Regions from separate parts of the Homo sapiens genome. Here region 2 is reported to be linked to region 1. The links are microRNA targets in miRTarBase. Many come from high-throughput screens and were not tested one by one. Region 1 holds a microRNA gene; the other region holds the end of a gene's coding sequence.
Evidence for each region. Region 1 holds the annotated microRNA hsa-miR-34a-5p (UGGCAGUGUCUUAGCUGGUUGU, at 1,895-1,916, shown strand). A microRNA usually pairs through its seed, bases 2 to 8, with sites in the 3' UTR of a target mRNA and lowers its output. Matches are read on the target gene's strand: a 7mer-m8 pairs with bases 2 to 8, a 7mer-A1 pairs with bases 2 to 7 and ends in A, and an 8mer does both.

Region 1 (3,903 bases):
CCCAGGTACCTGGAACTACAGGCACATGCCACCATGCCTAGCTAATTTTTGTATTTTTTTTTTTTTTTTGGTAGTAGAGATGGCGTTTCACCATGTTGACCAGGCTGATCTCGAACTCCTGATCTCAAGTGATCCACCCACCTCAGCCTCCCAAAGTACTGGGATTACAGGTGTGAGCCACCACGCCCGGCCTAAGAGCATTTTTCCCACACTAAAAGATAACACAGTCCAGCTGGCTTGCTTTTTAACCAGAGCATTACAGGGTCACCTGTTTGGAGGAGGAGGACTGAGGTCAGAGCAGGCTCCTGTCAACTCCAACGGGACATTTCACAGTGGCCACAACAGGCTGACCTCTGTGTCCTGTGTCCTGCTGACTGTGTGTGGAGGCCTCAGAGGGGCTCTTTCCCCCTTGCACAGAGAGAGACAGCACTGGCTCATGAGCCTGCTTTTTTCTGCACTACCTTACCTGGAACTCAAGTTTCTGGGACTTCCCATGCTGGGGTAGAGGTGACTTTGATCCTCCTGAAAACAGTCCTTCATGCCCCCACACCCACATGGAAGAGGAACTGTTCCGTGGTGGTCCGTATCCAAAGTCACTAGATCTTGGCCTGGCATAGTGGTTCATGCCTATAACCCCAGTATTTTGGGAGGCCGAGGCGGAAGGATCACTTGAGCCCAGGAGTTTGAGACCATCCTGGGCAACATGGCAAGAACCCATCTCTATAAAAACAACAACAACAAAACAACAAGAAGTCAGTAGATCTTAAAGCACTAGATCTTAAACCCTGTGATGGGCAATTTCCTTGTCAATTTAGCGAGGCTGTGATACCCATGATTCAACCAAACGCTTGCCTGGGTGCTACTGTGAGGTGCGTTGTACATGTGGTCAGCACTGATGATCACTGGCTGTAAGTCAAAGGTTCTCCTCTGCGAGGTGGGTGGGCCTCATGCAATCGGTTGAAAGGCCTCAAGAGCAGAACCGAGGTTTCCCTGAAGAAGAAGAAATCCTGCCTGGGGACTGCAGTGTCAGCTCCTCCGGGGAGCTTCCGGCCTGCTGGCCTGCCCTCTGGATTTCAGACTTGCCTAGCCAGCCCCCACAATCACGTAAGCCGATTCCTTGAAATAAACTTAATCTATATCTCCTTCTGGTTCTGATTCTCTGGCAGAACTCTGATCCTCTCCCTAAACGGTGCCCGGGACGGGGGAGGAGTTGGCGCTACTTCATTGCTTCCCTTTCACGCAGACATGCTGACTTTTCAACCACTGTCCTTTTCGAATTTTTTCTCTTCCAGGGAAGTGCTGACTCTTTTTCTCCTTGTCAATTAGTCCTTTTGGAATCTGTTACTGGTCTCAGCCTTCTCCTCCATCCTCTCTCTTTCATTATTTTTATTTTCATTTTGTAGAGACAGTTGCTGAAGGTGGTGGTCTGGCTATGTTAACCAGGCTGGTTTTGAACTTCTCGCCTCAAGTGATCCTCCTGTCTTGGCCTCCAAAATTGCTGGGATTACAGGTGTGAGCCATCACCCAATTTTTATTTTTAGAGACGGGGTCTCACCCTGTCACCCAGACTGGCGCAATCACAGCTCCCTGCAGCCTCAACCCCTGGGCTCAAGCGATCCTCCTGCCCTGGCCTCTCCAGTAGCTAGGACTACAGGCACGCATGTCACCATGCCTGGCTAATTTTTAAAATTTTTTTGTAGAGATGGAGTCTTGCTAGTTGCCTGGGCTGGTCTTGAACTCCTGGCCTGAAGCGATCCTCCCACCTCGGCCTCCTGCATCCTTTCTTTCCTCCCCACATTTCCTTCTTATCAACAGGTGCTGGGGAGAGGCAGGACAGGCCTGTCCCCCGAGTCCCCTCCGGATGCCGTGGACCGGCCAGCTGTGAGTGTTTCTTTGGCAGTGTCTTAGCTGGTTGTTGTGAGCAATAGTAAGGAAGCAATCAGCAAGTATACTGCCCTAGAAGTGCTGCACGTTGTGGGGCCCAAGAGGGAAGATGAAGCGAGAGATGCCCAGACCAGTGGGAGACGCCAGGACTTCGGAAGCTCTTCTGCGCCACGGTGGGTGGTGAGGGCGGCTGGGAAAGTGAGCTCCAGGGCCCCAGGAGCAGCCTGCTCGTGGGTGCGGAAGGAAAAAGGCACAGGGGCTTGGTGTGGGCGGCTTTTGGCTGGGAGAAGTTTGCACGTAGGGAGAATAGTAGCCAGTGTTTGCAGAGCACTTACTATGCAGGAAGGCCTGTCCTAAGTATTGTAAGTGTATTACATCATGTACAAGTGTCTGTGATTAACCCCGTCTTGCAGAGAAGGAAACAAAAGTACAAACAGAAAATGTAACTAAGCATGCAATTAATAAAAAGGGACCAGGTTTTGAACGCGAGCAATCTGGCTCAAGAATCTGCGCCCAACCACCGGCTCCTGTTCTTAGAGATGAACGTGGAGTCCTGGAGACTGCTCAACATTGTGACTTGACTGTGAGCGTACGCGCTCCCTGTCCCCAGGAGACAGATTTCCAGTGCAATCATAGAAAGTGCCTGTGTGGGCTTCGGGAGATGTGTCTGCCTTGGGGAGAATTTTCCTTTTCAGCTAGAGCCAGGCCCAGGATGTTGACGTCAGTGAGACGCTGGTGACGTTCTCTGCTCCAGTGGCTGATGAGAAAAGTTCCTCCAAGCCAGCTCAGTTGAGAAGAATTAAGTTCTCTGGGTCCCACTGGCTTCACCTACAGATGCCAACTTTGAGGCCAGTGAACTGTGAGGCCAGCTGGGCTGATTGCCATGGCAACAGGAATTGGACCAAAGTCACCGGAGGATGGAGAGGGAAGACACAGTGGTGGCTTCCCCAGGTCTTGGACCACAAGGCACAGCCGTGGCCTCCAGGAACCCTGAGATAACCCGTTAGTGGGTCCTGCACTCCAACAGAGCTCATGCAATCAGCCTCTGGTCCTCACCCTCCTCCCATTGGTGTCGTTGTGCTCTCTAACATTGACATTGAGCAGTGAGTGCTCCAGATCTTGTTCCACTGATTTTTTCCACTGTTCTCCAGTCTAGCACTTTCTGAAATTCATCCAAGCCTAAGAGGTGACGCCAAACGTAAGTGTCTTACACCTCGGACCCCATGGACTAAGACAAGCCTCTGGGGTCCATGTGGCACCAAGGATGGGGCCTTCTAGTACCTTTCACACAGGCCAGGGACAGCACCTGCTGCGACCCCCACCCCCAGCCTCTGCTGCTTCTCCCGTTGCCCTTCCAGCCACTGCCCTGGGCACCTCCCCTGCTCCCGCCTCCCTGCCTGGGCCCATCTTTCTTTGCACCTCACCAATTGCGGGGCTTCCTAGTGCTGGAGGGGAAGGGAGCCTGCTTCCATTCTCACCACTCTGAAAGAAGACCCTGCAGAGAGGTTTTCTGGAATTTGGAGCCTAACCTTGGCCTTGACACAGTCCAGATGAGAAGGCCGTCCCCCAGTTAAGCCAGCCCTCCCTCCCTCTCAATGCTGGAGAGGAAACCAGGCAGCTGGTTGCTTCAGCAAACCCCCTCCCTATGGGAATTGTCCTTTTCTTCCTCAAATAGACTGGAGTGCAGAGGACTTGCTTCAGAGAGAGCCCCTTTGTAACGCACATTGCACGGGCCGTGCCCCATGCCCACTCTGCCACAAACTCCCCTCAGCTGCCCAGCCCCGTGGAGCCAGGCGTGGGCTGAAGTGGGGCCAATGAAATGCCTGGAATGCCAGCCGCAGTGACAGGCCAGCACTCAGATGCCTCTCGGGAGTTCTGACCGAAGCAGCACTGAGGACTGCTTCAGAGCAGAAGTCTACGCCATTTTCCCCAGTTCTAGGCAGAAGTAAAGAATGTCTCTACCTTCTCCCAACCAGCAATTGATTCAGAGTCCTGAGCTTTTAAATTAAAGGGACCCCT
Region 2 (3,000 bases), not on the chromosome of region 1:
CAGTTTCCCTAAACCTCCATCCTCTCATCCCTCTAACCCTGTGCCCCCAGGACCTCAGCAGGACCCCAGGCTATACTGGCAGGGGGGCCCAGCACTGGGCCGCTCCTTCCTGCATGGACCAGAGCTGGACAAGGGGCAGCTACGTATCCATCGTGATGGCATCTACATGGTACACATCCAGGTGACGCTGGCCATCTGCTCCTCCACGACGGCCTCCAGGCACCACCCCACCACCCTGGCCGTGGGAATCTGCTCTCCCGCCTCCCGTAGCATCAGCCTGCTGCGTCTCAGCTTCCACCAAGGTTGTACCATTGCCTCCCAGCGCCTGACGCCCCTGGCCCGAGGGGACACACTCTGCACCAACCTCACTGGGACACTTTTGCCTTCCCGAAACACTGATGAGACCTTCTTTGGAGTGCAGTGGGTGCGCCCCTGACCACTGCTGCTGATTAGGGTTTTTTAAATTTTATTTTATTTTATTTAAGTTCAAGAGAAAAAGTGTACACACAGGGGCCACCCGGGGTTGGGGTGGGAGTGTGGTGGGGGGTAGTGGTGGCAGGACAAGAGAAGGCATTGAGCTTTTTCTTTCATTTTCCTATTAAAAAATACAAAAATCAGCTGGGCTTCGTGGCGTGCATCTGTAATCCCAGCTACTCGGCCGACTGAGGCAGGAGAATCGCTTGAACCGAGGAGGTGGAGGTTGCAGTGAGCCGAGATTGCGCCACTGCACTCCAACCTGGGCAACAGAGCAAGACTCTGTCTCAGGAAAAAAAAAATGTTCTTGGTTAGGGATGTTTGAAGAATAGAGGAAGTGGGCTGGGCACAGTGGCTCATGCCTGTAATCCCAGCACTTTGGGAGGCTGAGGAAGGCAGATCGCTTGAGCCTAGGAGTTCAAGACCAGCCTGGGCAACATAGTGAGACCCCCATCTCTACAAAAAATACAAAAATTAACCAGATGTAGTGGTGTGCTAGTCCAAGCTACTCCAAAGGCTGAAGTGGGAGATTGGGTAGAGCCCAGGAGGTCAAAGGCTGCAGTGAGCCGTGATCATGCCACTGCACTCCAGCCTGAGCAAGAGTGAGATTCCTTGTCAAAAAAAAAAAAAAAAAGTTCTGTTTTCTCCTTGGTGCATCTATTTGACAAGAGAGGAAACACAAAGATCACTTTGGGTGACTGTCTCTCAAAGCAGACAATGCAAAATACCTAATGAGTTGGGAGGCCAGGGTGGGTGGATCACTTGAAATCAGGAGTTCGAGACCAGCCTGGCCAACATGTAAAACTCCGTCTACTAAAAATACAAAAATTAGCCAAGCGTGGTCCAGGGCGCCTGTAATCCCAGCTACTCAGGAGGCTGAGGCAGGAGAATCTCTTGAACCTGGGAGGCGGAAGTTTCAGGGAGCCAAGATCGCGTCATTGCACTGCAGCCTGGTGAGGGGTGTCGCAAACCACCATGGCACACATTTAACTATGTAATGGAACTACACATCCTGCACATGTACCCCAGAACTTAAATAATAATAATAAAAGATCACTTGAGGTCAGGAGTTCAAGACAAGCCTGGCCAACATGGCGAAACCTCACCTCTACTGAAAATACAGGGTCTTGATCTGTCGCCCAGGCTGCAGTGCGGTGGCATGATCCTGTCTCACTGCGGCCTCAAACTCCTGGGCTCAAGCGATCCTCCCACCTCAGCCTCCCAAATAGCTAGGACCGCCAGCACAGGCCACCACACCCGGCTATTTTTTTTTTTTTTTTTTTGAGATGAGGTCTCATTACATTGCCCCAGCTGGTCTCAAACTCCAATCTCCCGAAATGCCGATCTTCCCGCCTCGGTCTCCCCAAGTGCTGGGATTACAGGCATGAGCCACTGCCTGGACCTCAAATACATTTTGGAACTCAGAATTTACCAGTATTTAAAGATGGTGTACAGGATTATACCATCTTTTTTTTTGAGATGGAGTCTCGCCCTGTTGTCCAGGCTGGAGTGCAGTGGCATAATCTCAGCTCACTGCAACCTCCACCCTCCCAGGTTCAAGCAATTCTTCTGCCTCAGCCTCCCAAGTCTGGGACTACAGAAATCCGCCACCACGTCCGGCTAATTTTTCTATTATTAGTAGAGACGGGCTTCACCATGTTGGCCAGGATGGTCTCGATCTCTTGACCTTGTGATCCACCCGCCTCGGCCTCCCAAAGTGCTGGGACTACAGTTGTGAGCCACCGCGCCTAGCGCTTATACCATCTTTTATGCATCACCTCAGTGAGGTCGGGACAGCATTTTGTAATCAAACACCACATCTTTTTTTTTTTTTTTTACAATGAGAAGTGTTAACATTCACACTAAGTGGGATAAAAATCAAGACTACAGGCCAGGCGCGGTGGCTCATGCCTGTAGTCCCAGCACTTTGGGAGGCCGAGGTGGGCGGATCGCCTGAGGTCAGGAGTTTGAGACCAGCCTGGCCGACGTGGTAAAACCCCGTCTCTACTAAAAACACAAAAATTAGCCAGGCATGGTGGCCGGCACCTGTAAACCCAGCTACTCAGGAGGGTGAGGCAGGAGGGTCACTTAAACCCCGGAGGTGGAGGTTGCAGTGAGCCAAGATCATGTCATTGCACTCCAGCCTGGGTGACAAGAGCGAAACTCCATCTCAAAAAAAAAAAAAAAAAAAATCAAGACCACAGTTACCAATCTGGCTAACATGGTGAAACCTCATCTCTACTAAACATTTAAAAATTAGCTGGGTGTGGTGATGGGCACCTCTAATCCATGCTACTAGGGAGGCTGAGACAGGAGACTCTCTTGAACTCAGGAGGTGGAGATTGCAGTGAGCTGAGATAGTGCCACTGCACTCCAGCCTGGGTGGCAGAGTGAGACTGTCTTTAAAAAAAAAAAAAAAAAAAAAAAAGACTACAATTAACAAAAAGTTAGTTCAGGTCAGAGATTGCTGCCAAACAATTCACCAAAACAACTTGATTTCCAGGGCTTTTTGGATTTTGGAACTGG

Region 2: the mRNA of CD70 is a reported target of hsa-miR-34a-5p. The part of its 3' UTR that is shown has no 7-base or 8-base seed match.

What each region holds. Positions count from the first base shown.
Region 1 is chr1:9,149,748-9,153,650 of GRCh38, reverse strand. It overlaps MIR34A (microRNA 34a), which reads left to right and starts at 1,874; the gene lies at 1,874-1,983. It overlaps MIR34AHG (MIR34A host gene), which reads left to right. Exons shown (of 2, transcript NR_132742.1): 2 at 1,816-3,903. RefSeq lists a silencer at 1,829-2,065.
Region 2 is chr19:6,583,456-6,586,455 of GRCh38, reverse strand. CD70 (CD70 molecule) reads left to right here. Exons shown (of 3, transcript NM_001252.5): 3 at 51-617. The coding sequence ends at 436. Among named protein-coding and RNA genes, the nearest start is that of CD70, 6.2 kb to the left of the region's middle. RefSeq lists an enhancer at 1-743.